Homo sapiens: one gene and its partners. The protein of the gene in region 2 interacts with the protein of the main gene of each other region in a biochemical or structural test. Each region holds a gene or a part of one and is shown on either strand. Other genes may lie near its edges. The genes, in order: CHEK2, KPNA2, S100A2 and CSE1L.

The links.
Region 1: the proteins of KPNA2 (region 2) and CHEK2 form a complex in vitro, tested with the Homo sapiens proteins (one study listed by BioGRID).
Region 3: the proteins of KPNA2 (region 2) and S100A2 form a complex in vitro, tested with the Homo sapiens proteins (one study listed by IntAct).
Region 4: the proteins of KPNA2 (region 2) and CSE1L form a complex in vitro, tested with the Homo sapiens proteins (2 studies listed by BioGRID).

The regions. Positions count from the first base shown.
Region 1 is NC_000022.11:28,738,821-28,746,136, reverse strand, and holds the start of CHEK2 (serine/threonine-protein kinase Chk2), read left to right. Parts: upstream 1-4,316; 5' UTR 4,317-4,368; intron 4,369-7,310; exon of another isoform or gene 7,311-7,316. Other genes in the region: iron-sulfur cluster co-chaperone protein HscB isoform 1 precursor, read right to left, coding at 129-273, 1,433-1,522, 2,159-2,255, 3,806-4,041. UniProt on the Homo sapiens protein: Serine/threonine-protein kinase which is required for checkpoint-mediated cell cycle arrest, activation of DNA repair and apoptosis in response to the presence of DNA double-strand breaks.
Region 2 is NC_000017.11:68,031,754-68,038,738, forward strand, and holds the start of KPNA2 (importin subunit alpha-1), read left to right. Parts: upstream 1-3,981; 5' UTR 3,982-4,087; exon of another isoform or gene 4,088-4,803; intron 4,804-5,356; 5' UTR 5,357-5,379; coding exon 5,380-5,454; intron 5,455-5,604; coding exon 5,605-5,742; intron 5,743-6,985.
Region 3 is NC_000001.11:153,562,835-153,570,228, forward strand, and holds the start of S100A2 (protein S100-A2), read right to left. Parts: upstream 3,011-7,394; 5' UTR 2,672-3,010; intron 1,054-2,671; 5' UTR 1,044-1,053; coding exon 900-1,043; intron 703-899; coding exon of another isoform or gene 581-702; intron 1-580. UniProt on the Homo sapiens protein: May function as calcium sensor and modulator, contributing to cellular calcium signaling. May function by interacting with other proteins, such as TPR-containing proteins, and indirectly play a role in many physiological processes.
Region 4 is NC_000020.11:49,041,850-49,049,313, forward strand, and holds the start of CSE1L (exportin-2), read left to right. Parts: upstream 1-4,462; 5' UTR 4,463-4,574; intron 4,575-7,464. UniProt on the Homo sapiens protein: Export receptor for importin-alpha. Mediates importin-alpha re-export from the nucleus to the cytoplasm after import substrates (cargos) have been released into the nucleoplasm.

The DNA of each region.
Region 1 (7,316 bases), on a different chromosome or scaffold from region 2:
AGTGCTGGGATTATAGGCGTGAGCCACTGCACCCGGGCCATTATATACTCTACGTTCATTTTTCACTAATCCTTGGACAAGTGTTCATAACAGCAATGAAATACATTCAGTGCTATTTTATCTTTCACCTTTGACAATGGATTCAATCTCTTTCATGGCAGCTTCACTTTCAGCTTCTGCGAGTTTTTCATTGATTTCCATTATTTCTATGAGGAATTGCCTGTCCATTTCATAATCTGTCCTTTCAGGAATCTCTATTCCATGGAGCTTTAGCTATTGGGGTAGAAAGCAAGAAAAATAAGTTGAAGAAGCTATGGGCAGAGTAATGTAAATCCTACTCATCCATTAGGAAATAATACCACTAATAGAGAAAACTGCAACTGTCCCGATAATGAAAGACTAAGGGGTATCAAAAGCTTGGACTGAAACAGAAATGCTGGAATGGGATTTCCACTCATGCTACCCAAAACTATGTGACCTTGGTGTGATCTTGGGGTAGTCATTCCTCCACTCAGAGGTTGAACTAGATGTTTGTAAAGATTCTATTCAATTATAAAATTTTCTAGATTGTAAGATACTTTTTTTTTTTTGAGATGAAGTCTCACTCTGTCGCCCAGGCTGGAGTGCAGTGGTGTGATCTCAGCTCACTGCAACCTCTGCCTCCTGGGGAAGCAATTCTCTGCCTCAGCCTCCCGAGTAGCTGGGATTACAGGCACCCGCCACCATGCCCGGCTAATTTTTTTGTATTTTTGGTAGAGGCGGGGTTTCACCATCTTGACCAGGCTGGTCTTGAACTCCTGACCTCGTGATCCACCCGCCTCGGCCTCCCAAAGTGCTGGGATTACAGGCGTGAGCCACCATGCCTGGCCTCTTAAGATACTCTGGAGAGGAAAAAAAAACAAAACAGAAAATGACTCTTAACTAAAAGCTACCATCATCAAATCCTTGAAATTCACAGAAAAAAGCTAGAAAATCACAATTTAAAAAATGCAGTTGAGGCAAGTAATATTCACAGAGAAAATTATACTTGTGCTCTGAGGCTAAATACTATTGGGTCCCTGGACTTTTTTTTTTTTTTTTTGAGAGGGTGCAGTAGTACAATCACAGCTCACTGCAGCCTTGACCTCTCAGGCTCAAGTGATCCTCCTGCTTCAGCTTCCAGAGTAGCTGGGACTACAGGTGTATGCCAACATGCCCAGCTAATTTTTGTATTTTTTGTAGAAATGGGGTGTCATCATGTTGCCCAGGATGGTCTTGAACTCCTGGGCTGAAGTGATCTGACCACCTCAGCCTCTGAAAGTTCTGGGATTACAGGTGTGAGCCACCATGCCTGACCTCAAGCACTCTTCTGCTGAATAAAGGGGACGTGGCTGTCCTACGCCATAATGGGCATCAGGACGTCATACACAGAAGTGTTGGGAAATCACCTTACAAGGTACAGTCCTCTGCTCAGGGGGGCCAGGAGGGTCTTATAGGCATCATTCACCAGGGTCGAATGCTTCTCTGAGAAGTCCTTTTCAGTCTGTTAGTGGAGATGAAGATAGTACTATTACCATCCAAATCACAAAGTTTTTTTGTTTTTGTTTTTGTTTTGACGTTGAGTCATCCAGGCTGGAGTGTGCAGTGGCGCGAACTCAGCTCACTGCAACCTCCACCTCCCACGTTCAAGTGATCCTCCTGCCTTAGCCTCCCAAGAAGCTGGGACTACAAGCATGTGTCACTGCACTGGGCTAATTTTTATATTTTTAGTAGAGACAGGGTTTCACCCTGTTGGCCAGGCTGGTCTTGAACTCCTGACTTCAAGTGATCTGCCTGCCTCGGCCTCCCAAAGTGTTGGGATTACAGGCGTGAGTCACTGTGCCAGGCCCACAAAGTTTTATAATATTCTAATGGGCAGGCACCTAAGGAAGTGGTTAAGTAGAGCTGGTGTGGGATGAGGTGTCTTTATATTCAGCTGATAGGTTTTAAGTTATCTGGGAAGTCAGACAAAAGCTGTGAGTGAATGGCAGCTCTGGGTCTGACAGGCTGGGGTCAGACTGCCATGGGGCAGACACAGCTGATTTTCCAGCTCAGTCCCTGATAATCACATAACCACAAGGCTACTGCCACCCAGTGTGCACACATATTTGGGGATTATTGGGGTTGGCCAATAAGCTACCTGAGACCTCTGGCTGAAGAAATCTGGGTGGACAAGACGCTGCAGTTGCTGGTACCTGTGCTGGAGCTTCGCTGTATCAACTCTGAAGGAACGGTTGCTGGAAGGAAATTGGGAGATTAAATTTATACAACAAATATTTAAAGGTTTATCTACCATGAGCCTGGTTCTTGCTCTTATGGGGAAGATGCAATAACATATAAGCAGTTAATTTCAAAAAGTGGTAAGTCCTATGAAGGGACACAGAACAGAGTCAGAGAGTGTAGCAGATGTAGTGGACAAAGAGATGACACTCAGCTGAAACCTGAATGATGATGAGTAATCAAAGATCAGAGGAAAGAGACGTCCAGGTAGAATTGCAAGAGCAAGGACCTCGAGGTGGGAGCAAGATGGGGATGCCTGAGGAACTTAAAGATCAGCGTTACTGTAGCCCCTCATACATGTTCAGTGACTGGTGGGGAAGATCCCATAGTTAAGGAAAAGGGACATTCCTAAATTACACAGACAAAGATTCTTTGCCTGGCCAAACTTTAGTCAGATTTCTGAACCTTCTCCTAGGCCCAGATGTATGCTTTCTTGTAAAATACAGTTTTGGCAAATAATCTTGCCAAGTCAGTTTAGCTAGAATCCTCGATCCTCATATTTTTGATCATCCTAGATCTCTGATCAGATTCTTCATCCTCTACTATCCCCCAGGTGGTGTCTAAGCAGCCTGGCCTGTCTTCAGCAAGAATCCCGTTAGGTCGGCTTAGCCAGAATCCCGTTTACTCTGCTCCTTGGCTACAAATTTCCTTCTGCCCATGCCCTTTTTGGAGTTGAGACCAATCTCTCTCCCCAACTGCAAGACCCTATTGCAGTGGCCCCTCTACAAGATGGTCTTGAAGAAAGTCTTTCTGGTGCTTGAACAAGTGTGACTGAATCATGTTTTCTTTAATACCACCCTAACTTTTCCACGGCCCAGGTCCCTTCATCCCTGTCTCTCCCGGTTTATTTTAATTCAGCCCCTTTCACATTCTACTCCCAGAGTCTGTCCTATTTCCTTACCAGTTCAGCTCTATCCACACTGCCCCGTCTCTCCAAGAACCTCAGTCTCAGGGGGAAAAACCATTTATTGGACCCTCTCCCTCCAATTCTCACTTTTCCCTCAGGCCTCGCCCACAATATTAAGCTTTTCATGCTTTACTCCCTAATCTCGGATCACACTTCTGCAGTCCTTTCTTAAATACATCAACCCAACTTTAAACCTTACTCACCCTATTCATTCAAGTCTTCCAGTCTCCCAGGCCCTGCCCCTCAAGTACCCTTTCCTCAAGTTCCGCCCCTCGACTTCTCCTTCCCTTTCCCGTAGGTACCGCCCCTCAAATCTCCCTCCCCTCTAGCCTCGGCCCCCCTATTTCCTCTAACTTCAGCGCCCGCCCCTCCAGTCCCGTTCGTCTCCCTTCTCCACACCTCAACGTTGCTTCCCTCAGTCCCCGCCTCTCAATTTCCTCCTGAGAAATCAAGACACTTCTCTCACGCCTGCTCTCTAGACCTCCGCCCCCCCATCAGTCCCGCCTTCTCTTCCGCCAGCCAGATCCGTCCTCCCCTCTCGCAGGCCAGACCTCGACGTGTCTCTCGCCCGGGCCCGTTTCCCGAAACCGTCGCTCGTACCAGTCCATAAGGCTGAAGTAGTCTCGAGTGGGGTCAGGTGCCTGCAGCGCTCGGCACTGTGGGCAGAAGAACCTGTCCTCCCGCCCGGGGCCCCATGGGCCGCCGCAGTTCCAACAGCGGGGATAATTGCTTCCCGCCTGCGACGCAGCATCGCAGCTTAGCGGTCTCCTTCTGGGAACCCCTGTCGGCCAAAACCCCCACACCCGGAGCAAAGCCCCGGCTCTCCCCCGCCACATCTGGCCGGCGGCCTATCTAGCCGTGGTCACTCGTGGGGAAAAGCAAAGAGAGCGTCTAACCAGACTAATGTTGCTGATTGGCTGGGGAGTCGAGGGGGCGGGATCACCCGAGGGGAACCCGGGTTCTAAGTTCCGCTCTCCCTTCTAAACTACAACTCCCAGGAGGCATTGAGGCGGCGCCTGACGGCCACATCTGCTGCTCCTCATTGGTCCGGCGGCAGGGGAGGGGGTTTTGATTGGCTGAGGGTGGAGTTTGTATCTGCAGGTTTAGCGCCACTCTGCTGGCTGAGGCTGCGGAGAGTGTGCGGCTCCAGGTGGGCTCACGCGGTGAGTCATATGGGGAACTTCTGTTGGGTGTTTGGTGGTTCGAATCCCATCTTAAGCGTTTTGTGCGAACGGAGTCTCCTGAGCTTCGCTTTGTCTGTAGTTTTGAGCTGAAGGGGGAGTGTGTGGGCGACTCTCTTCCTTTTCAGTAGATCATCCTCGAGGTGAAGTTCACTTCCCGTATTACTTGCAAGCTGAAACAGGCCTGAACATACAGGATAAGAAGAACAGCGTTGTATTCTTCAATATCAGAGCGAAGTGACTTCGTAAAAATTCTATAGATGTTAGAAATCGTTGCCATTCTTTAGGTTCAATCTATAAAATACTTATAGAGAAGCCAGTCTTAGCTACTGGGCGCTGCAGGGACTGGAAACGCACTGAGCTGTGTAGGAGGATGTTCTGCGTGTCCCTAAATAAGTCCCTAAGTAAATGTATGGGATAGGGTGGCCAGAAGTGGGTAGGAGGGCATCAGTCCTCCTTCGGACTTAGGTTTTCTGCTTGAAAAAAATATTGTGTTTCACTTGAAAGACCTCTGGAATTTTTAAAAAAAATTATTTATTTTTGATATAAAGTATACATATATGATTACCATCTGTACCTTTTTTTTTTTTTTTTTTTTTTTTGAGACGGAGTCTCTCTCTGTTGCCAGGCTGGAGTGCAGTGGCGCGATCTGGGCTCACTGCAACTTCTGCCTCCTGGGTTCAAGCGATTCTCCTGCCTCAGCCTCCTAAGTATCTGGGATTATAGGTACCCGCCACCATGCCCGGCTAGTATTTTTAGTAGAGACGAGGTTTCACCATGTTGGCCAGGCTGATCCCGAACTCCTGACCTCAGGTGATCCACCTGCCTTGGCCTCCCAAAGTGCTGGGATTACAGGTGTGAGCCACCGCGCCCGGCCTATTTTCAATTTTTTGAGGAATCACAATACTCTTCTCTATAGTGGCTATACTAATTTGCATTCCCACCAGTGGTGTATGTGAACAGTGCAAGGTCAGACATAACCAGGTCCATGCACATTTGTGTCTTTCCACAAGATCAGACTTATTGATGTTTTATTTTAATTGTAAAAGCCACGAGCTATATGGAGTTCCCAAGGAAGCAATTTTCCGTAGTACTCCCTGTTTACTTGGTGGTCAGAGCCATGGGCACACAGGCTCAAGCCATTCCACAAGTCAGTCAGTATTGTAAACCGTACACAATAGTATATTTATTTAATATGTAAATGTTATAGATTAAAAATCTTACATTAAAGTAACATTTAACATTCGGAGAAAAGGGGATAGGGAAAGTGGTTATCAAACCAGTCCAAGGAGAGCAATGTGGACAAAGAGAGTGTTTTGGCTTTATCTGGGGTGTCAGTGTCTTGTAAGGAAGAGTTTTTGATGCGGGCAGAGCCTTTGATGGCGGATACTGGGTGTTAATCATGAGTGACAGCAAGATGGTGTCTGTTAGGACAGCCATTTTGACCTAATAAAGTCCTGCTCTTATGACCAAAGAATTTTCTTGTGAGGACTAATAACAAAAGCGTGTACATATTTATATCCTTATCTGGTTTAGTACAGTGTTTTTTTTGAGACAGAGTCTCGCTTTGTCACCAGGCTGGAGTGCAGTGGTGCGATCTCGGCTCACTGCAACCTCCGACTCCCTGGTTCAAGCGATTCGCCTGCCTCAGCCTCCCGAGTAGCTGGGACTACAGGCACGCGCCACCATGCCCAGCTAAGTTTCGTATTTTTAGTAGAGTTGGGGTTTCACCATGTCGACCAGGATGGTCTCCATCTCCTGACCTTGTGATCCGCCCGCCTTGGCCTCCCAAAGTGCTGAGATTACAGGCGTGAGCCACTGTACATGGCCAGTACAGTCTTTATTAATTAGACAAACATCTGGTCCCTGTTGGCATAATGCCTTTTAAAATATAAGATAGAGCCTTTTTCTAAGATAAAATTACTTATGTCAAGAGCACTCTATACAGTTCCCCTTTCTGCACATTCTTTCCAGCATCTGTTTTGCCTATCTTTTATACAAACCATTTTAACTTGGGTGAGATGGTATCTCATTGTGGGTTTTTTTGTTTGTTTGTTTGTTTGAGACAGAGTCTTACTCTGTCGCCCAGGCTGGAATGCAGTGGCGCGATTTTGGCTCACTGCCTCCTCTGCCTCCCGGGTTCAAGAGATTCTCCTGCCTCAGCCTCCCAAGTAGCTGGGATTATAGACGCCTGCCACCATGCCCAGCTAATTTTCATATTTTTAGTGGAGACAGGTTTCACCATGTTGGCCAGGCTGGTCTCAAACTCCTGACCCCAAGTGATCTGCCCGCCTCCGCCTCCCAAAGTGCTGGGATTACAGGCATGAGCCACTGCACCCGGGCCTCACTGTAGTTTTGATTTATATTTCTCCAGTGATCAGTGATGTTGAGCATTTTTTTAATATACCTGTTGGCCATTTGTATGTCTTCTTTCGAGAAATGTCTTTTCGGATCTTTTGCCCATTTCTTTTTTTTGAGACAGAATCTCACTCTGTCACCTAGCCTCGAGTGCAGTGGTGCGATCTCGGCTCACTGCAACCTCCGTCTCCGTCTCCTGAGTTCAAGTGATTCTCGTGTCTCAGCCTACCAAGTAGCTGGGATTACAGGCACGGGCCACCATGCCCAGCTAATTTTTTGTATTTTTAGTAGAGATGTGGTTTTGCCATGTTGACCAGGCTGGTCTTGAACTCCTGACCTCAGATGATTCACCCACCTTGGCCTCCCAAAGTGCTGGGATTACAGATGTGAGGCACCGTGCCTGGCTTGCCCATTTCTTAAATTGGATTATTTGTCTTTCTGCAGTTGAGTTTCATCTCCTTATATATTCTGGTTATTCATCCCTTGTCAGATGGCTAGTTTGGAAATGTTTTTTCCCATTCTGTGGGTTGTCTCTTCACTTTGTTGATTGTTTCCTTGGCTGTGCAGAAGCT
Region 2 (6,985 bases):
CTACAGGCATATACCAACATGCTTGGCTAATTTTTTATTTTTATTTATTTATTTTTTTAGACAGAGTGTCACTCTGTTGCTCAAGCTGGAGTGCAGTGGCACAATCTCAGCTCACTGCAACCTCTGCCCCTGCGTTCGAGCGATTCTTGTGCCTCAGCCTCCCGAGTAGCTGGGACTACAGGCACGAGCCACCGCGCTTGGCTAATTTTTGTATTTTCAGTAGAGACAGGGTTTTACCATGTTGGCTGGGCTGGTCTTGAACTCCTGACCTCAAGTGACCCACCTGCCTCGGCCTCCCAAAGTGTTGGGATTACAGGCGTTAGCCACTGCTCCCAGCCTCTGCTAATTTTTTTTTTTTTTTTAATTTTTGTAGAGATGGTGGTTTGGAGGAGGGCATCTCGCTATGTTGCCCAGGCTGGTGAATGGATATTAAGAACTGAATGTTTGCATCCCCCTCAAAAATTCATATGTTGAAAACCTAACTCCCAGTATGATAGTATTTGGAAATGGGGCCTCTGGGAGGTTGAGATGAATTCATGAGGGTGGGGCCCTCATGATGAGATTAGTGTCCTTATAAAAAGAGCCATCAGGCCGGGCGCAGTGGCTCATGCCTGTAATCCAAGCACTTTGGGAGGCTGAGGTGGGTGGATCATGAGGTCAGGAGTTCAAGACCAGCCTGGCCAACATGGTGAAACCCCATCTCTACTAAAAATACAAAAATGAGCCAGGTGTGGTGGCATGCACTTGTAATCCCAGTTACTTGGGAGGCTGAGGCAGGAAAATCACTTGAAACCAGGAAGCAGAGGTTGCAGTGAGCTGAGATCGCGCCATTGCACTCCAGCCTGGGTGACAGGGCGAGACTCCATCTAAAAAAAAAAAAAAAAGAAGAGACACCAGAGAGCTTTCACTCTCCCTTCTCTGTGCTAAAATGAAGAGATCATGCTAGCACACAATTAGGCGATGGTCATCTGGACGCCAAAGAGGGGGGCCCTTCCTGGAAACTGACCACTCTGGCACCCTTATTTCAGATTTCGTGATCCAGAAATGTGAGAAAAATAAATGTTTGTTATCTAAGCCTCCCAGCCTGTAGTACTTTGTTATGGTAACCTAAGCGGACTATGCTAGTGGACTAACACATCAGCTAAAACTTGGTCATAAATGATAGGACTTTTTTTTTTTTTTTTGAGACGGCGTCTTGCATTGTCGCCTGGGCTGTAGTGCAGTGGCACCATCTCAGCTTACTGCAACCTCTACCTCCCAGGTGTAAGTGATGCTTGTATCTTAGCCTCCTGAGTAGCTGGGACCACAGGTGTGTGTTACCACACCTGCCTAATTTTTTATATTTTTTAGTAGAGACAGGGTTTTGCCATGTTGGACAGGCTAGTCTTTTTTTTTGAAATGGAGTTTCGCTCTTGTTGTCCAGGCTGGAGTGCAATGGTGTGATCTCGGCTCACTGCAACCTCTGCCTCCCAGATTCAAGCAATTCTCCTGCCTCAGCCTCCCAAGTAGCTGGGGTTACAGGTGCTTGCCACCACGCCCAGCTAATTTTTTGTATGTTTTAGTAGAGACAGGGTTTCCCTTTGTTGGCCAGGCTGGTCTTGAACTCCTGACCTCAGGTGGTCTGCCCACCTCAGCCTCCCAAAGTGCTAGGATTACAGGTGTGAGCCACTGTGCCCGACGATATCGTATCTTTCAAAGGCAATTTTGGGCATTATACTTCTGTTTCAGGTTGTTTTTAGGTGCAAGTACAGAATAGTGGTTCAGAACACAGATCCTGGAACCAGACTGCTTATGGCTGAATCCTGTCTTTGCCATTTACTGGCTGTGTGACCCTGGAACAAGTTACATAAACACTTGTGATTCAGTGCTCTCTTTTGTGAAATAGAGCAAATAACAGTACTACCTCACAGTTGTGAAGATCAAGTGTATTAATATATGGTAAACACTCAGAACACTTCTGGGCACATAGTAGTCAGTATTTTCAAGCAAAAGAAACTCAACTTGGCTTGGTATGGTGGTCAGGCCTATAATTCCAGCACTTTGGGAGGCTGAGGTGGGTGGATTGCTTGAGCTCAGGACTTCGAGACCAGCTTGGGCAAAATAGTGAAACCCTGTCTTTACAAAAAATGCAAAAATTAGCTGGACGTGGTGGTGTGTACCTATAGTCCCAGCTATTTGGGAGGCTGAGGTGGGAGGATGGCTTCAGCCCAGGAGGCAGAGGTCGCAGTGAGCTGAGATCGTGCCACTCCACTCCAGCCTGGGCGACAGAGCTAGACCCTGTCTCAAAGAAAAGAAAAAAAAGAAAAAAAAAAAGAGAAGAAACTCAACTTGACAATACAAAAGAAATGTGTATCGGATCTCCTACCTGCAAACCTTCAGAGATAGAGCAGGTCAGACCTCTCAAGGTTTCCCTACAGTTTTCTTATTCAGATTTCTAGGACTCACATCCCTTAGTTCAGAAGAACAGAGGCTGCTTTCCTACCTCCAACCAGTAAACAAAAGGCAGAGGCTGTCCAACTGGATGAATTTAGGTCATGTGCCTGCCCCTGAACCATTCTCAGTAGCTGAGAGAATGCCACACAGTGATTGGTTTAGGGGTGAATTCCTTCCACATTCTTGCATTTAGGGGGATGGGATTATGCTGATTAAGAGTAGGTCCAACCCTTTATGAACTCTGGCTTTACGATGAATGAGGCTGGCATTAATGCCTGCAAAAATGGACAAACTTGCTGTTTGAATTTATTTATAGTAAGAAATAAACCATGAAAACTTTTCTAAAATGTAATCTTTTAGAACACAAAAAAATTGCAGAAACAAAAATGGCCCAGAATCCTGATGCTCTGTTGACCATCTTTGTTTTGTTTGTTCGTTTGAGCATATGGCAAAAAATGCAAAATTCAGAAATGTGTAATGAGCATAGAATGTTACTATAACAATTGAAAAAACTTGAACACACACTACATACTAAACAACAGCATGAAATTTCAGTTTTTCTGAATTTGATGACTGCAGTGTGGTTATATAAGAGAATGTCTTTTCTTAGGAGAGACACCGTGAAACAGAGGAAAAAGGACATGATTCTGAAACTTTCTCTTAAAGTAACATATTAAAATCACACATATGTACACGCGTGCATATGTATACATATATATGTATAGAGAAAGCAATAGCAAATGTGGCAAAATGTTAAGATTTGGCAAATCTGGATAAAGATTTGCAATTCTGCTGCATTTGAAATTATTTAAAAATAAAAAACTTGAGTTTTTGGAGAAACAGGCATAAGAAACCTTTTGTTTCCATATTTGCGGCTTCTATACAGTCTTTTATGATGCAATTAAAAAAAAACTAAACTAAAAAATATAACACAAATCTTCCCTCCCATAGTAGCCAGAAACCCCCGCCGAGTACTTTGGGTGTCATAATAGGAAAAAAATGCAAAGCAATATGTTTTTCTATAAAGATTACTTATTTACTAATTAGAATTTTTTTATTTTCATGAAGATCAACAACAAAGTTTTTAAAATAATGACTTAGAGAATCATTTTGTGGTATTTGTTTAAGGCTGTCGCCCAGGAAAACGCCCAAGGACCATGCACGCTTCAACCCTATGGAAACACGAACGGCCCAGGGAACCGCCCCTTCGCGCTGCTTGACGGGATCTGGAGTCCTCCCGCTCCGCCCCGCCAGGCGCTCAGGGACCGCCCGGCCGCTCCCTCACCGCCCGGCCGCTCCCTCACCGCCCGGCCGCTCCCTCACCGCCCGGCCGCTCCCTCACCGCCCGGCCGCTCCCTCATCTCGCGATGCCATCCTCTTTTTTTTTTTTTCTTTCCCCCCTCCCACTCGCCCCCAAGCCCTATGACTCCCTCCCCTCCCAACGTGTTTTTCAAATCCACCAATGGGCACACAGCTTAGGCTCGAACCAGCCAATCGGAATGCGGAGTCACCGGGAAATTTAAATCGCGCCGGCCGGCTGCACGAGCCACACGGTCTTTGAGCTGAGTCGAGGTGGACCCTTTGAACGCAGTCGCCCTACAGCCGCTGATTCCCCCCGCATCGCCTCCCGTGGAAGCCCAGGCCCGCTTCGCAGGTACAGACTCAGGCGGCGGCCCGGCCCGAGCGCTAACGGCTTGCCCGTGGGCGGCGTTCGCCTTTTGGGTTGGGGGAGGGAGGCCCCGGGTCCACGCCGAGCCTGGCTCTGCCTCCCGCGTTGACTAGGCCTCGGGGGCGACGTTCATTGACCAGGCGGCTGAGTTTCGCGGGGTCTGCGGGTTTAGGGCGCCGACGCTCTGCAAACGGCAGCGGAGGCCTTAACGCGTCGCGGCCGGGAGAATCGGAGCGAGCCAGGCTTGAGGGCGAATGTCCCGGGAGGACTTGTGGCGGCCCTGGTTTCGCCTCCTCCTTTCTCGTTGCATCTTCCCCGGCGTGGGGGCAGGGGCTGGGGGTGGCAGTTGGGAGCACCGTCTCTGACACCTAGGCCCCGGGGGTGGCTCTGCCACCAAGTCGTAGGCGAGCGTAATGAAAGCAAAGATAGCAAATTGTAAGGAGGGCTTTGACTTTTGTCATCTTCTGAATGACGCACAGCTGATGTCATCCTAATTAAGCGCATTCACTCCTAGTCTCTGGAAATGCAAATCAAATATGCGAGATGCGGCACTGCATTTTTAATGTTGACCATAATGTAATGATGAAGCAAATTTTTATTTAATTTTCGAGTCTGCACCTATTTTGGCCAAGTAAAGACAGTAAAATAGGGAGAGCCTCCTGAGGATCTGAATTTATTGCCCTGGCACATAATTTTTAGCTGTAAGTTGACTTGGTTCCCCTACTTTGTCTTGAATTAACTATTAGGGACTCTGGAGTATCGAACTAGGCTGTCAGAAACGGTGGATACATGTGGCTAGTCCAAATTGAAATACGCTGTAAGCTTAAAGTACACAAAAGATTTCAAAGATGGAGTATGGAAAAAGAATGTAGAAGATGTCAGTTATTTTATATATTGATAACACGTTGAAATACTATTTGGATATGTTGGGTTAAGTAAAATACATTATTAAAATTAGTTTCACTTGTTTCTTTTCTCCTTTTTAAAAATATGGCTACTAGGAAGTTTCAATTTATATAGCTTGCATTCTATTTCTGATGGAGAGCCCTCTCCAGGAAGTCTCAGCCCTTTAGAGGGAAGGGGGACACTTCCCCTTTGGGTAAAGCTATTTCATAGTGCCGAAAACATGATGATCCCCCCTCTAGTATACAGGTGTGGATTCAGTAGATGCTTGATAATTCAGTTCTTATTTGGTACTATTATTGACAAAGGAAAATGATAAAGGAAATATTTTTCTCTTCCCCCATCTTTTAGCTTTCTCCCTTTGTCTCATAACCATGTCCACCAACGAGAATGCTAATACACCAGCTGCCCGTCTTCACAGATTCAAGAACAAGGGAAAAGACAGTACAGTGAGTACCTTCTGTTGCTTTCCTGTGGTGGTATTTAAATGGGAAGACATTTGGAAAGGGGTGAAAACTGAGGTATTTAAAAAAAAAATGCCCTCACTTAGCAACAAAAACTGGTGTGATAGGTGAAACGGCATGTTATCTTTTCTCAAGGAAATGAGGCGTCGCAGAATAGAGGTCAATGTGGAGCTGAGGAAAGCTAAGAAGGATGACCAGATGCTGAAGAGGAGAAATGTAAGCTCATTTCCTGATGATGCTACTTCTCCGCTGCAGGAAAACCGCAACAACCAGGTAAAAAATGTATTTTAGTTTATGAGTTACGTGAAATCCAGAAAATCAGTAGGGACTTTTCTTAGAAATTCAAGTAAACTTAACATTTCTAGTCTTAACGGTTTTAACTATCTGTGAACATCTTTTTCTCTGTTTGCAATTAGTAATTGTCTTCTTTCCTGCCTTCTGTAATCCACTGAAGCTGATTTAGGATCTTCCTTTAGCTCTGACCTTCCTTCAGACTTCCCTGCATTTCTAGCTACTAGCTGGGTACCTTGGCCTGACCAGTGTGTCCAGAGCCAGCCAGTTTCTGGTTTATTTCTTCTTTTTTTTTTTTTTCCCCCGAGATGGAGTCTTGCTCTGTTGCTCAGGCTGGAGTGCAGCAGCACAATCGGCTCACTGCAACCTCTGCCTCATGGGTTCAAGCAATTCTCCTGCCACAGCCTCCTGAGTAGCTGGGATTATGGGTGCGCATCACCACGCTTGGCTAGTTTTTGTATTTTTTTGTTTTTGTTTCTTTGAGACAGAGTTTTGCTCTGTCGCCCAGGCTAGCGTGCAGTGGTGCGATCTCCGCTCACTGCAAGCTCCATCTCCCGGGTTCACGCCATTCTCCTGCCTCAGCCTCCTAAGTAGCTGGGACTACAGGCGCCCGCACCCTGTCTGGCTAATTTTTTGTATTTTTAGTAGAGACGGTGTTTCAACATGTTAGCCAGGATGGTCTCGATCTCCTGACCTCGTGATCCACCCGCCTCAGCCTCCCAAAGTGCTGGGATTACAGGCGTGAGCCACTGCCCGGCCTGTTTTTGTATTTTTAGTAGAGGCGGGGTTTCACCATGTTGGCCAGGCTAGTCTTGAACTCATGACCTCGTGATATGCCTGCCTTGGTCTCCAGAAGTGCTGGGATTACAAGCGTGAGCCACCAGGCCCTTCCCGTTTTTGGTTTATTTCTGCCTTTTTTGGTATTCTCTATGTTTTTGTATTTGTCACCAGCTTTGTTCAGGACTTTCCTTCTGAAATATTTACAGTAGCCTCCTAATTTATCATATCCTTCTTTATGCCATATACTATTTTCCTGAAATTTTTCCTGAAGTACTGCTTTAGACCTGTGTTTTCGCTCCTTAAAATCCATACTCCAAATTGCTTGAACCTGGGAGGTGGAGGTTGCAGTGAGCCAAGATCATGCCATTGCACTCCAGCCTGTGCAACAAGAGTGAAACTCCGTCTCAAGGAAAAAAATAAAAATAAAATAAATCCATACTCCAGC
Region 3 (7,394 bases), on a different chromosome or scaffold from region 2:
AAAATTGGCCAGGCATGGTGACAATACTCCTGTAGTTCCAACTACTTGGGAGGATTGCTTGAGCCCAGGAGTTCGAGATTACAGTGAGCTATGATCCAGCCTGGGTGACAGAGTGAGATCTTGTCCCCCCACCACAAAAAAAAAAAAAAAAAAAGGAGTCCGGGCACGGTGGCTCACGCCTGTAAGCCCAGCACTTTCAGAGGCCGAGGAGGGCAGATCACCTGAGGTCAGGAGTTCGAGACCAGCCTGACCAATATGATGAAACCCCGTCTCTACTAAAAATACAAAAATCACTTTGGGAAGCCGAGGCAGGTAGATCACGAGGTCAGGAGTTCGAGACCAGCCTGGCCAATATGGTGAAACCCTGTCTCTACTAAAAATACAAAAATTAGCTGGGCGTAGTGGGATGCGCCTGTAGTCCCAGCTACTCAGGAGGCTGAGACAGGAGAATTGCTTGACCCCTGGAGGCAGAGGTTGCAGTGAGCCGAGATCGTGCCATTGCACTCCAGCCTGGGCAACAAGAGGGAAACTCCATCTCAAAAAAAAAAAAAAGAAAAGAAAAGAGAGAGAGAGAACGTGCCAGTGCTGTGTGATCTTGGGACAATCACTTTTCCCTTCTGGGCTCTGGTTTCTCAAGTCTCCAATGACAGGATTAAACAGATGGACTCGGAAGGCCCTCACAGCACATGGTTCTCTGGAATGCTGCAGGAAACAGCCATTAATTAAGCACTCCCACTCGGGCCTCATTTCCACTCCAGTGGAGCCATGAAGCTAAAGTGGGGAGGGGGCTGGGCCCCACCCTGGCACCTGCATCGACAGGCACCCGGAACTGGGGGAGAGATTTAACCTGCACCCCCACACTCACACCAGGACCTCCCCCACAGGCCTGTGCCACTCACCCCCACAAAGCTGGGCAGCTCCTTGTGCAGAAGTTCCTTCATTTCCCCCTTACTCAGCTTGAACTTGTCGCCCTCTTGGCAGGAGTACTTGTGGAAGGTAGTGACCAGCACAGCCAGCGCCTGCTCCAGAGAACTGCACATCATGGATCTGTGGCTGCAGAGGTGCCAGGTGATGGGTACACTGCTGAGGCTCTTGGGGCCTTAGCTCAGCCTGTAGGATCCACTTCTGCCCTATGCCCCCAAGCCACCTCACAAAACCCCTCTCTGAATGGGAAGGCAGGGGCTGCATCTCCCCCTCAGACTGTGGTTCCCTGAGGCCGGAGGCGATACCTCCATCTCACCCTGAGGGCAGACGCTAAAGCTTCCCTTGTGTCTGGGAGTCACCAAGCCTCCTCTGATGGCACTTGGGACACCCCCCTGAGGGCAGGGCTCCCCATTTTAGTGTCTGCCAGAAGGGAAATGACAGGGTGACCAGAGTCCCATTTTGATGGCATCTGCGCAGGCTCTGGGGAGCAGGGCCACATGCACCGGCTGGCAGATGGGGGCTCCTGTGCAGTCTGGCAGGAGCCATGGCTACAGCCTAGGAGCAGGAAGCTCCCTGAAGGAGTCGTTTCCCTCCTTAGACTCGGGACTCCTGAAGCCAGAGGCATCTCTCTCTGCCATCTAACTGGAAGCTCCCTTGGGCAGGAGTGTTTCCTCTCTCAGACTAGGAGCTCCCAGAGGGTGGGGAATGTGTCTCCCCTCACCCTGAAGGCCCCTGAGCCTCTAGGCAGACAGGGGCATGGATAGGGTGGGGGCAACTTAACATTCTCTCCACCAGGAAGGATCCTGTTGGAATTAGAATTAAAGATATGAAATGTTCATTGCCTTGGGATCAGGATGGGACAGACCTCAGCGGCAAGGCCTCTGAGAATACTCAGACCAGCCTGGAAAGGTTAGGCAGGTTTCAGGGTGAGGCCAGAGGAGCTATGCCAGAGGCAGGGCATGCCCTGGGCCCATCATGCCAGCCCTGCCTTCACCGAGGCAGGGGGCAGAGCTTTGCTGCTTGGGGCCATGACCCAGGCAGAGTCTTGAGACCCCTGCCTCTTGCACCTTAGTCCTGCTAGAATCCAGGACTTTGCAAAAAAAAAAAAAAATCTCAGGATTCTTTTTGCAGCAACGCCCACATGCACACCTCCTGCTCCTAGGCCTAGACCCCCAAAGAAGGGCCCCTAGACTGAGATATCCAGGGGAGGGCCTCAGAGCAACCCCTGCACTGAGACCTCACAGAGGAACCTGGAGAAAAACCCTTCAGTCGGCCGGGCGCGGTGGCTTACTCCTGTAATCCCAGCACTTTGGGAGGCCGAGATGGGTGGATCACGAGATCAGGAGATCGAGACCATCCTGGCTAACATGGTGAAACCCCATCTCTACTAAAAATACAAAAAAATTAGCCGGGCATGGTGGTGGGCGCCTGCAGTCCCAGCTACTCGGGAGGCTGAGGCAGGAGAATGGCGTGAACCTGGGAGGGGGAGTTTGCAGTGAGCTGAGATCACACCACTGTACTCCAGCCTGGGCGACAGAGCGAGACTCCATCTCAAAAAAAAAAAAAAAAAAAAAAAACCCTTCAGTCAACACTTCAGCACTTCACAGAGAGTTCTTCCAAGGGGGAAGGCCCAGAGAGGCCCAGGTTGATCCCACCAGGGAAGCTGGAATGAGAGAACTGTGGAGACAAAGACAGAGACCCACGGGGATCCTCCCCACCCTGCCCTCAGCAGGACAGAGGTACTCACCAGACCAGGTGGCAGAGACAGACCCAGGAAGGAGAGCAAGGCAGCCAGGCTCCCAGGGTGAGGATTTATATGTGGGCCCCACTGGCCCCCAACTTGGCATTTTAAGGAAACCAAACCTGCCTCAACCTGATCCCACCAAACCCTGGCCTCTTGCCATTCCCACTCATTCCCTCCCAGCCCCCTCCCTCCCAGAGAGTGCCAGCTCCACCACCAGCTGGGGGAGGGCTCTAGGCCAGGTCAAGGGCAGCCCCTGAGCCCACCCAGGCCACAGTGGGAAGTGGGAGGTGTCGTGGGGACTGGGCATCCTGGACCGGGGTGAGGGGAGGCAACCCCTGCTCTGGGGCCTGGAGACTGGTGCCAGGCCTCATTCTCATGACATGCCTGTGAGTCACAGCCCACTCCTGTGTGAGAGGCTGTGAGCACACGCTGAGACTTCATGGTCCAGTGCTCGTGTACATACATGCGCCCGTGTGTGTGAGAGAGAAGCAACCTGGGGCCACCCTTAGGAAGCTGGGGGCCAGAGGAGGCAGCTGGGGGACATCAGGAGGAGAAGGACAGGACTGACTTCAGGGCATGGATGAAGTGGAGTGACTTTTAATGGCCAGCACCAGAATACCTCTTAATGAGGTAATGAGGTAACTAAGTGTGCTTAGAAATACCTGGGAAGGTCCCTCTGTGTAGGAAGGTGTCTGGAAGGATGGGGAAGCAGTGAGAAATGGGGTTGCTCTACACACAGCCGCAGTTGGGCTGGGCCACAGTCTGTGGGGAGCATAAGGAAGTCCCGAGTAGTTAAAGGCTGAACAGGAAAACTTTGGCCTCCTCTTCTCCAGCTTGAGGGCTGGGTGGGTGGGTAGGGGTACATCCCTACCCAAGGCTGAAAACACCAGCTGGACAGCTTCCCAAGCCAGAATCCAGGCCTGAAGCACAGCCCTCAGCCACAGCCCTCTCTCACTGCCCCCCACACACATGTCCTCCCCAGACCCGGAGAAAGGCAAACACTGTGGCCATTCAGAGCCCAGCCCAAGGGAGGGCTGCCCCCTCCCAGGGCCCCTTCCTCCTTGGCCCTTTGTCTATCCCGGCCCGTCTGGGCATCAGGGCACCGCCCTTCCTGTGGCCCCAGCTCCCCTCCCTGCTCCAGCTGTCGAGTAGCTTCTTCCCCTCCCCCAGCCCCTCTACCTCAGCCCTAAGTGACTCACCCGAGGTTCCAGGCCCAGATGCCCAGGCAGTGACTCAGCGGCACACCCTCCTCCCCCAGGGCCAGGGCAGCAGCAGTCCCAGAGCAGTAGGTGGAAGCCCCAGCCCAGCCTGGCAGGGAAAGCACTGGCACAGAGACCCCAAACAGGCCCTGCCAGGAGGAGCTTTGGATAATGACATGGCAGGAGGATCAGACTGAGAACAGGCTGGTCCCTTCCTAGCGGTCACCGTGTGACTTGGGGGCCAGCCTGAGCAGTGTACATGAAGTCAGGCCTTGGGGCCCCCAGTGTCCTCTTCTACACCTTGGCACAGCCACCGAGTGTCCCTTGCTCCCCTCAGTACTTGAACCCCTCATGCTACTTGTCTTCCCATCGAGGCCTACTTCAAGTAGAACTCGGAATAAAAACCCTTCACACTGAGGGTGAGGGACAAGGGAGCGCAATGCATCGATTTTCACAGCCATTCTTTCCTTTTAACTAAGGGCCTCCACAGGGCCTTCCCTGCTCAGAAACTGCAGTGCATCCCCATGGCTGTCCCTTAAAGCCAGGCGGTATGTTCTCACTCATAAGTGGGAGTTGAACAATGAGAACATATGGACACAGGGAAGGGAACACCACATACCAGGGCCTGTGGGCAGTTGCGGGGAGAAGGATGGGGGCAAGGGGAGGGAGAGCATTAGGACTAATACCTGATGCATGCGGGGCTTAAAACCTAGATGATGGGTTGATAGGTGCAGCAAACCACCATGGCACATGTATACCTATGTAACAAACCACATTCTGCACATGTATGCCAGAACTTAAAGTAAAAATAAAATAAAATTAAATTAAAATTAAAAATTTTTAAAAAGCCTGGCAGTGAGGCGCTCCAGACTCGGCCTGCTGCTGCGTGTCCCTTAAACACACCGGCACATGCAACTAGTGTGGCCAAGACCCTCGGCTTGCGCTGACCCCTCTGTTCAGAACGTGCCCACACATGCCCATGCCCTCTATCCTGCTGAAATCCAACCCCCCCTTCAAAGGCCACTGCAGGGAGCCTTCCCAGGGCCCAACCGGATTCAGTGTCTACCTGTTCTGTCCTGTACAAAGCGCCCCTTTTGCCCTTTTCGTGTGTACTTAGAGAATTCTGATTTTGACTGAATCACCTGTGTACTTGTTTTCTCTCAGCCTCACCCCCACATGGTGAGCTCACCGGTCTTACTCATTTCTGCATGAGGTAAGGGTCTCGCCCACACCAGGTGCCAACCAGTGCTTACGGCTACCACATGGCAACAGGGGTCACTGGAGGAGTGCTTAGGAGCAAGGGAGTCCTTCTCACCCCGTGAAATCACACCACTGACTATGCTACGAAATAATCACCTCTCCTCTGGATCCCAAGAGTGGAACCGAGACAACGGGTCGGAAAAGAGCTTCAGAGAGCTACAAATCCCTGAGGAGTGACAGCAGGAAACTGCGGCTCCCAGGACCCAGTGAGGGAGTTGAGCAAACCCCCCAGCGGGCAGAGACGGAGACAGGCAGGCAGACGAAGAAGACAAAGAGTCAGTCAGATGGAAAAGCCAGGGAGAAAAACAGAGACAGCAGCAGAGCCGCGGGTCACTAGGGTCAGCTCCTGAAGGCCTGTCCTTAATCAGGTGTCTCTGTCTCAGGAACTGAGGCTGCGACTGCGCCCATCAAATGGCCATATACCTGAGACTGGTGATAATCGTATTCATTTGCCACTAACTTGCTGCGTAACCTTGGGCAACTCCCTCCCCCACGGCAGGGCAGGAGAGTTGTACGGAATGGCCCCTAGAGTCCGATCCCAATCCCACTCTCACATTCTCCAGCTGTCTACAAAGGCAGAGTAGTCAAGACACAAGCAGGCCCTGCGGACATCCAAAGCAGTGACTCTGCCCCGGCCCAGCCTCAGGAAGCTGGGTCCTCACATTCCGTCCACCCCATCTCCGGGCTCCAGGTGCCAGAAATTTTCCACCAGCGGCCCCGCGGGATTTTGCCCAGCTGCTTCGTGCCCTCTGGTGGCTAAGGCGTGTCATTGCAGTGCCGGCCTCCTGTCATCCTCCCTTTCTTGTCCGCCAGACCCTCTGGCGCCCTGCTTACGACTCAAACAGGAGACAGTGCTGATTCATTTCCAAGCGGCCTTCCTACACCCACACCTGCTTCACATAGATGAGGTTTCCCGGACAGTCCCTGCCCAGAAGCCCAGGTGGATGTCTGAGACGGCAGCCAGATACCTGGAAGCCATTTTAAAAGCCTAGGGATATGGGTACTCGGGAGATAGGAGGCGGAAAGACCACTTGAGCCTAGGAGTTTGAGGCTGCAGTGAGCCATGATCGTGCCACTGCACTCCAGCCTGGACGACAGAGCAAGACCCTGTCTCAATCAATCAATCAATGCAAGCCTAGAGATAAGGGCAGGAGAAAACCAGGGGACAGAAGTGAGGGATTGGCCACTGCCAAGTTCTGCCCACCCACCCCCTTTCCCCAGGCCGTTCAGGGGAAAGAGAAATGGCCTCATTGTGGGGGCCACAGGTTTAGTTTAAGTCCTGACATTGCCTCTGGCTTACTGTGTGACTGTCGACCTTGGTTGAGTGGTGCCACGAACCTGAGCTTAAACGTTTTCAGCAGAAGGACCCCCTTTATTATGCCCCGCCCCACAAAATAAGTTCTGAGGTATTCTGTCTTAGCAAAATGCATTAAATAATTTATTTCCCCTGTTGTACTAATTGGATCCATAAGTGTCTCCCGGCAGCATGACCAGCATGCGAGGACCCACGTTATCACATTGGGTTCAGGTCATCCTGGATTTGTCACTCACAATGGGCGTGTGCATATCCTTTGCTGGGGGGTGCAGACTGAAATTTTGAAGCACTCGCTGTGCGTCAGGTGCTCTCCGTACATTACCCCATTTAATTCACACAACAATCCCAGGAGTTGGAATAAGATGACCCCACTTCACAGAGGAGAACACTGAGACTCAAAGTCTGCCAAATTCACACAATTAGTAAGGGGTGGGGAGGCATGACGAACACAGGTGGTCACAACGTTAAACCTTTCCTAGAAGCTCCAATTATTCCCCGATAACCCTGAGAGCCCTAACATTTCATTTCCATTCAGACCAGCCTCAGTCTCTCTGCCCATCCTCTCTCCACCCCACACTCAGCCTATCTGTCTCATTTCTCAACCTCAGCAGGCGCCAGAAGCCCATCTTCTCCCCATCTCTGATTCTGGCATCTTTTCCTCTTGCCTTCAAATGCCCTGTGGACTGGATTCTTTTTAATTTTTGTTTACTTACTTATTTGAGACATAGACTCACTGTCGCCAAGGCTGGAGTACAGTGGCACCATCACAGCTCACTGCAGCCTCATGTGATCCTCCCACATTAACCTCCTCAGTAACTGGGGCTATAGGTGTGCGCCACTGTGCGCATCTTTTTGCATCTTTTGTGGTGATGGAGTTTTGCCATCTTGCCCAGACGGGTCTTGAACTCTTGAGCTCAAGCAATCCTCCTGCCTCGGCCTCCCAAAGTGCTGG
Region 4 (7,464 bases), on a different chromosome or scaffold from region 2:
AGCTCACTGCAACCTCTGCCTCCTGGGTTCAAGCAATTCTCCTGCCTCAGCCTCCCAAATAGCTGGGATTATAGGCACACAGTACCACGCCCGGCTAATTTTCATATTTTTAGTAGAGATGGGGTTTCACCATGTTGATCAGGCTAGTCTCAAACGTGTAGATTTTTATAACATATAAACATATATTTAAACAGAAATAAGCCAGGTGCAGTGGCTCACGCCTGTAATCCCAGCATTTTGGGAGGCCAAGGTGGGCAGATCACCTGAGGTCAGGTCAAGACCAGCCTGGCCAACATGGTGAAACCATCTCTACTAAAAATACAAAAATTAGCTGAGTGTGGTAGTGGGCGCCTGTAGTCCCAGCTACTTGGGAGGCTGAGGCAGGAGAATTGCTTGAACCTGGGAGGCGGAGGTTGTAGTAAGCCAAAATCGCGCCACTGTACTGTACAGCCTGGGCAACAGAGTGAGATTCCATCTCAAAAAAAAAAAAAAAAATTAAAGTGCCTCCATTTTAAAAAAGATAAGAAACAACAATCAGATACTTCTCAATGTTTAGCTGTTAACACTCTTCTGCATCTCAGTTGGGCTTTAAAAGCGAGATTGAGACATAAGACTTGTTCTTTCCCAGCATAACCAGATGTGTCCACGCCCTTCTGGATCCAAATAAAATGTAAAGTTATCTTCCTCAAGGAGCACACCATAGACAATGTGTCTTTTCAGAATGTCTTTCCTTACATTAGACAGATTGGGGTTTTTTTTGTTTTTGCGCGGGGGGACAGAATCTTGCTTTGTCGCCCAGGCTGGAGTGCAGTGGTGCGACCTCAGCTCACTGCAACCTCTACCTCCCAGGTTCAAGTGATTCTCCTGCCTCAGCCTCCCAAGTAGCTGGGATTACAGGCACCCACCACCACACCCGGCTAATTTTTGTATTTTTAGTAGAGATGGGGTTTCACAATGTTGGCCAGACTGGTCTCGAACTCCTGACCTCGGGTGACCCATCCTGTCCTCCCAAAGTGTTGGGATTACAGGCGTGAGCCACCATGCCCAACCTAGACAGATTGTTTTATAAGGGTTTAGAAAGAAAGGAAACTACATGAATGAGTACTTAGTCTCCTGCTCCTTGAAGTGGATGAATTGTTTTCTTTGGTTTCCAACACAGTCTGTTAAGAGTTGTAGCACGCCCCAAGAGTATGTGCATGTAGTGGAGCTGGGATGGGGAGGATTCCCAAGGGAATCTTTAGCTGTCACCCATGAACCATGCAGAGTGGAGAAGGACACTCAGCCTTTCTGTGGCTCTCACCTGCATGATTATTCTGGTGGCTGCAAAGGGCGATAGGCAGTAGGAGGAGACACCCCGTGACACCAAGAGCTGTGTCCAGACATGATCGTCTTGGCACAGCTTGAGGGTTTTCTACAGAAACTGGTAGAGATGCTAGACAGACACAAGATGCCAGCCAGCCTCCTTTGCGATTGGCTCTTAGAGGTGGAAAATGGTAAAGTCATCAGGCTCATTCTCCCTAGGACTAGAGGAACATGTTAATTATATTAAAGTAGATTAGTGGGCCGGGTGTGGTGGCTCACGCTTGTAATCCCAGCACTTTGGGAGGCCGAGGCGGGCGGATCATGAGGTCAGGAGATCAAGACCATCCTGGCTAACACGGTGAAACCCTGTCTCTACTAAGAATACAAAAAATTAGCTGGGCATGGTGGCGGGCGCCTGTAGTCCCAGCTGCTCGGGAGGCTGAGGCAGGAAAATGGCGTGAACCCAGGAGGTGGAGTTTGCAGTGAGCCGAGATCGCACCACTGCACTCCAGCTTGGGCAACAGTGTGAGACTCCGTCTCAAAAAAAAAAAAAAATGCAGATTAGAACGATTAAAATGATTACTGGTGATTACTGGTACTATTGCTGCAATAGTAAAAATACATCTTTTTCACCAATGTCTTTGTTTTTTTTTAAAATGTTCCACCGTCTTCTGACCATCATGGTTTATTTTTATTTTTATTTTATTTATTTATTTATTTTTTTAAGACACAGTCTCGCTGTCACCCAGGCTGGAGTGCAGTGGCTCGATCTCGGCTCACTGCAGCCTCTGCCTCCCAGGTTCAAGCGATTCTCCTGCCTCAGCCTCCTGAGTAGCTGGGACTACAGGCGCATGCCACCACATCTGGCTAATTTTTGTATTTTTGTAGAGACAGGGTTTTACCATGTTGGCCAGGATGGTCTCGATCTCCTGACCTCATGATCCGCCTGCCTCAGCCTTCCAAAGTGCTGGGATTACAGGCATGAGCCACCGTGCCCGGCCTCACCAATGTCTTTCACTCATGTATCTTTCTCCATGGACTTCACTTATTTATATATGGCATTTCATTCAACATGCAACAAACATTTATTAAGCAGCTACTGTGTGCCTAGTGCTGGGGGTACAGCTGTGAATACCATCAATATGGGGCTAGATGTGGTGGCTCACACCTGTAATCCCGGGGCTTTTTTTTTTTTTGAGATGGAGTTTCGCTCTTGTTGCCCAGGCTGGAGTGCAATGGCAAGATCTCAGCTCACCGCAACCTCTGCCTCCCGGGTTCAAACGACTCTCCTGCCTCAGCCTCCCAAGTAGCTGGGATTGCAGACGTGCGCCACCACACCCGGCTAATTTTGTATTTTTAGTAGAGACGGGGTTTCTCCATGTTGGTCAGGTCTCAAACTCCCAATCTCAGGTGATCTGCCTGCCTCGGTCTCCCAAATCACTGGGATTACCGGCGTGAGCCACCATGCCCAGCCCTATCCCAGTGCTTTAGGAGGCGGAGGTGGGAGGATCACTTGAGGCCAGGAGTTTGCCTGGGCAACATAGTGAGAGCTCATCTCTACAAAAAAATTCAAAATTAGCCAGGTGTGGTGGCAGGTGCCTGTAGTCCTAGCTACTCAGGAGGCTGAGGTGGGAGGATTGCTTTAGCCTAGGAGGTCGAGGTTGCAATGAGCTATGATTGTGCCATTGCACTGCAGCCTGGGTGACAGAGCAAGACCCTGCCTCTTAAAAGAAAAAAAAAAAAAAAAAAAAAGCCCTGGCCAGGCGTGGTGGCTCATGCCTGTAATCCCAGCACTTTGGGAGGCCAAGGCTGGCGGATCACAAGGTCAGGAGTTCAAGATCAGCCTGGCCAATATGGTGAAACCCCGTGTCTACTAAAAATACAAAAATCAGCGGGGCATGGTGGCGGGCACCTGTAGTCCCAGTAACTTGGGGGGCTGAGTCAGGAAAATTGCTTGAACCTGGGAGGCAGAGGTTGCAGTGAGCTGTGACAGCACCACTGCACTCCAGCCCTCCAGCCTGGGCGACAGAGCAAGACTCTGTCTTTAAAAAAAAAAAAAAAAAAGAAAAGCCCTTGCTGTATAGAATCCCTTAGGTTATGGATGGGGAGGAGGGCAGGGGTTTAGGAGGGGAGAAGCGGAAGGAGGAACAAAATAAAGAAGAGACAATTAGTTGGAGAGTGATAAATACCATAATGATATCATGGAACTAGGCTTACCAGATCAAACACTGGGCACCCAGTTCAATGTGAATTTCAGATAAGCAATGCATGATTTTTAAGTATAAATATGTCCTACACAGTATTTATACTAGAAAATTATAAATTTTTTTCTAAAATTTACATTGACCTGGGCAGCCTGCATTTTATTTGCTAAACCTGGCAACCCTAATTTGTGTGCTGGGTGGTGGTGAGTGGGCAATTTCAGATAGGCCTCTTTTGTGGAGGTGACATTTGAGCTGGAACCTAAATGTAAAGAAGGAGCCAATCATTCAGGAATCTAGAACATCCCAGCACAGGGAACAGCAAGTATAAATGCTCTAAAGTGGAAATAAGCTTGGAGCTTAGAGGAACAGGAAGAAGGTGGGGTGGCGGAGCTGAGTGAGGGTGAGGAGAGGAGGGAAGCGGAAGGTGATGAGGGCAGGCAGGCTGGCAGGGGCCAGATCCCATATGGTTTGTGGGCTGTAATAAGAGTACCAAAACTTACATACCAGGCCAGGCGCGGTGGCTCACGCCTGGAATCCCAGCATTTTGGGAGGCCAAGGTGTGCGGATCACTTGAGGCCAGGAGTTCGAGACCTGTCTGGCCGTGTCTCCCTCTAAAATAGAAGCTCCAAGAGGGGCAGGAAGTTCTCTTCCGTCTTAGACCCTATGTGCACGACCTTGGATCGATCAACATTGAACACCTCCTACGTGCCAAGCCCTGACATCAAAATGGGTCAGAAGCCAGCAGCCGCTCGCTGAATCTGTGTTCCTCTTTGGAAAACGAGAACCGTGAAGCCTGCTGGCATGGTCAGAGCCAAAGAGCATTGTCACTTGTGAGATCAGCGCAGAAACAGAGCGGGGCCCCGATTGGCCCTTCGAACTTGGGTGGGGCCAGAGCATTCCTGGCCCCGCCCCCTGCAGCGGGCCGCTCGCTCATGCGCTCTGGCCTCAGGCTCGCTGTCGCGCCATTTTGCCGGGGTTTGAATGTGAGGCGGAGCGGCGGCAGGAGCGGGTAGTGCCAGCTACGGTCCGCGGCTGGGGTTCCCTCCTCCGTTTCTGTATCCCCACGAGGTGAGGCGCGGGGCGTGCACGGCCTACCAGAGTGGCTCTTGGGGCCCAGCTGAGGAAGGGATGAGGCGCTCCCGGTACTAACGAGCGCTAGGGAGTGAGAACCGCGCCTCTGGGCGAGAGCGGAATGTGGGCCCGGGGTTCGGGTGGTGCGCTCAGGCAAGGTCTTCGGCTTCCCTAGGGAGCGCTTGCCGCGCCTCGCGGCATCCTAGGTCTCTGGCCCAGGTGCGGCGACCCCAGGGCCTGTGAGGGCTGAGGGCAACTGAGGCGCGGCCTAACGCGAGCCTGCGGATTGCCCGCCCTTTCCTCTCCATCACGGCGCTGATTGGCTGCGCCGCCGCCTCTCCGCTCGGGAAGGCCGCTCCTTATTGGTCGCGCTCGCATGTCCATTCTCTGCGACGGTGGCTGCTAGCCGCGCGAGCTGAGTGTGCGGCGGCGAGGCCTGCCCGGGCGGGGACTGCGGGCGCGTGGAGCTGCGGCTGCCTCGCGTCGTCCCTTGCCCTAACTCTAGTGAAGCCCCCGAACTCACCCTTCTCTAACCTCTGTACTTGTATCCCTGACTGTAAAACGGGCATCGTGATCTCACTTTGCTGAATTGTTTGTGAGAATTCTAGTCGGTACACCCGGGACATAGAAATCCCCTGTAACGCGGGTTGGGGGAGGGTTCCCTCGTTTTGGGAGAAACGCTGTGCTGTGGTGGTTCGGAGCATAGACTTTGGAATTAGATCGCCTGGGTTCATTCCAGACGTAGCCTCTCGTTAGGGGTGTAACTTGAGGCTGGTCACCTCATCTCACTGAGCCTCCATTTCCTTAGCTGCAAAATGGGGTTAATAACAGAATCTACCTCGGAAAGTGGCTTTGAGGATGCGCTGAGTTATTTACCGTGGTTTACAAAGGTTCCCTGGGAGCTGACGGTTGTTTATTCATCTCTCCCACCCATCTTTCTCCTTAGCCAGTGTGGCTTTCTGTTTCTTCCATATTCCAGGGTTATTCCGATTTAAAATTATTTGCACATGCCTTTTGTTTGCTGGGGAAGTACCAACATTTTTGCAAGGCAGGCCGCCTCTCCCAAGTTTCCCTCACCTTAGGCCTCCCCTAACCAACCTCTTCTTTTGTTTTCTTTTTCTTTTTCTTTTCTCTTTTCTTTTTTTTTTTTTTTTTTTTTTTTTTTTGAGAGAGAGAGTCTCGCTCTGCCTCCCAGGCTGGAGTGCAGTGGCGCGATCTCGACTCACTGCAACCTCCGCCTCCCGGATTCAAGCGATTCTCCTGCCTCAGCCTCCCGAATAGCTGAGACTACAGGTCTGAGACTACACGCCACCACACCCGGCTAATTTTTGTATTTTTATTAGAGACGGGGTTTCACCATGTTGATCAGGCTGTCTAATCAACCTGTCTAGGACCTTTCTCCCATGGCTCTCCATCAACATCACCTGGTTTTAGTTACTTCATAGCATTTACTAACACTTACTTATTGCTTACTTGTTATCTTTCTCAACTGCTAGAATGTAAGCTGTTTGAGAGCAAGGACCTTGTCTGTCTTGCTTACTTCTCTCTCCCTGGTGGGTGCCATCCCACCTGTGCTTGCCACATGGTAGATGCACAAGTATTATTCTTCCTTGGAGGCACAGAAGGGGACCCTTTAGTCTTGGATTCCACCAATTGCTCTTTTTCTCACCTTGGGCCCACATAGTCATATCTTTGGCCTTTCTCTGTGTGTGTCTCTCTCTTTTTTTTTTTTTTTTTTGACATGCTTTCAGAGGATCCTAATGGACCTCGTCTCTCCGCTCCTACAACCCTTTATCTTTCACTTCTTACCATCAGTGCAAGGGAAGTCTCTCTCCCCTTCTGATTACTTCTGCTGGTTGGGGTCTGGGACAGGATTGGATGGATGCAAGAGCAGTGCTCTAGTTTTGGAATTAATTTGTTTCTTTATTCATTTAATAACTTTATTGAGCATCCACTTAATCTCTGGGAATATAGTGAAAAAACAAAAATGGACAAGGTCCCTTCCCTTGAGGACCATGTATTCTCGTGGGCGAAAGAAAAAACATTAGATAATTTCAGATAGTGACAGAATTATGTGACAGGTGAAGAAGGCTTTTCTGAGGAGGTGACATTTGGGTAGAGACCAGCCATTAAAAGGTGAGGGGCAGAACATTCCAGGTAGAGGGAATAGAAGGCTCAAGGCTCAAGGACAGGAACCGGCTTGGAATATTGAAATATTTAAGGAATATCTTAGGTTCCTAGAGTGTTACATGAAGAAGGGAGAAATATCCAGGACCCGGATCATAGAAGGCTTTGTAGGCAATGTAAGGAGTTTGGATTTGATTCTAAGTGGTATATTCCTATGGTTAGAAAGCAGAGGGTAGGTTGAGGTGTTGGGATATGTTCTTCATGTGTGGGTGCCAGATAGTTTTCATTCATTGGATCTCTTTCCCTCTTCCCAAATGTAAGGCCTCGGGAATGGTTCTCTAATGTGTTGAGGACATATCTAAGAAAAAGGCAGACATCTTGGATCAGCTTATGTCACAGATGTCTGTGAGATGGCTTTGGAAAACAAAGCTTTTATTCCAGAAATCTCCACCTGTAATTGAGGGCCTGTGGGAAGATGCTAGACTTAGGTCTGGCCATTCATTCAACAAGAAGAACTTGGAAATTTAGATGTCTGCCATAACTGATTTATTGTGATGCTTTTTTAAGTTTCTTAATTGTGTATTGGTAGAGATTTCCAAAGATAGTTACGTGGAGAAAGAAAAGTATCACCCCCTCATTTAAAGGTGATAAAAATGAATTCTTATCTTCTCCCTCCCTTTTTTTTTTGGAGACACCATCTCACTGTGTTGCCTGGGCTGACCTGGGCTCAGTCTATCCTCCTACCTCAGCCTCCCGAGTA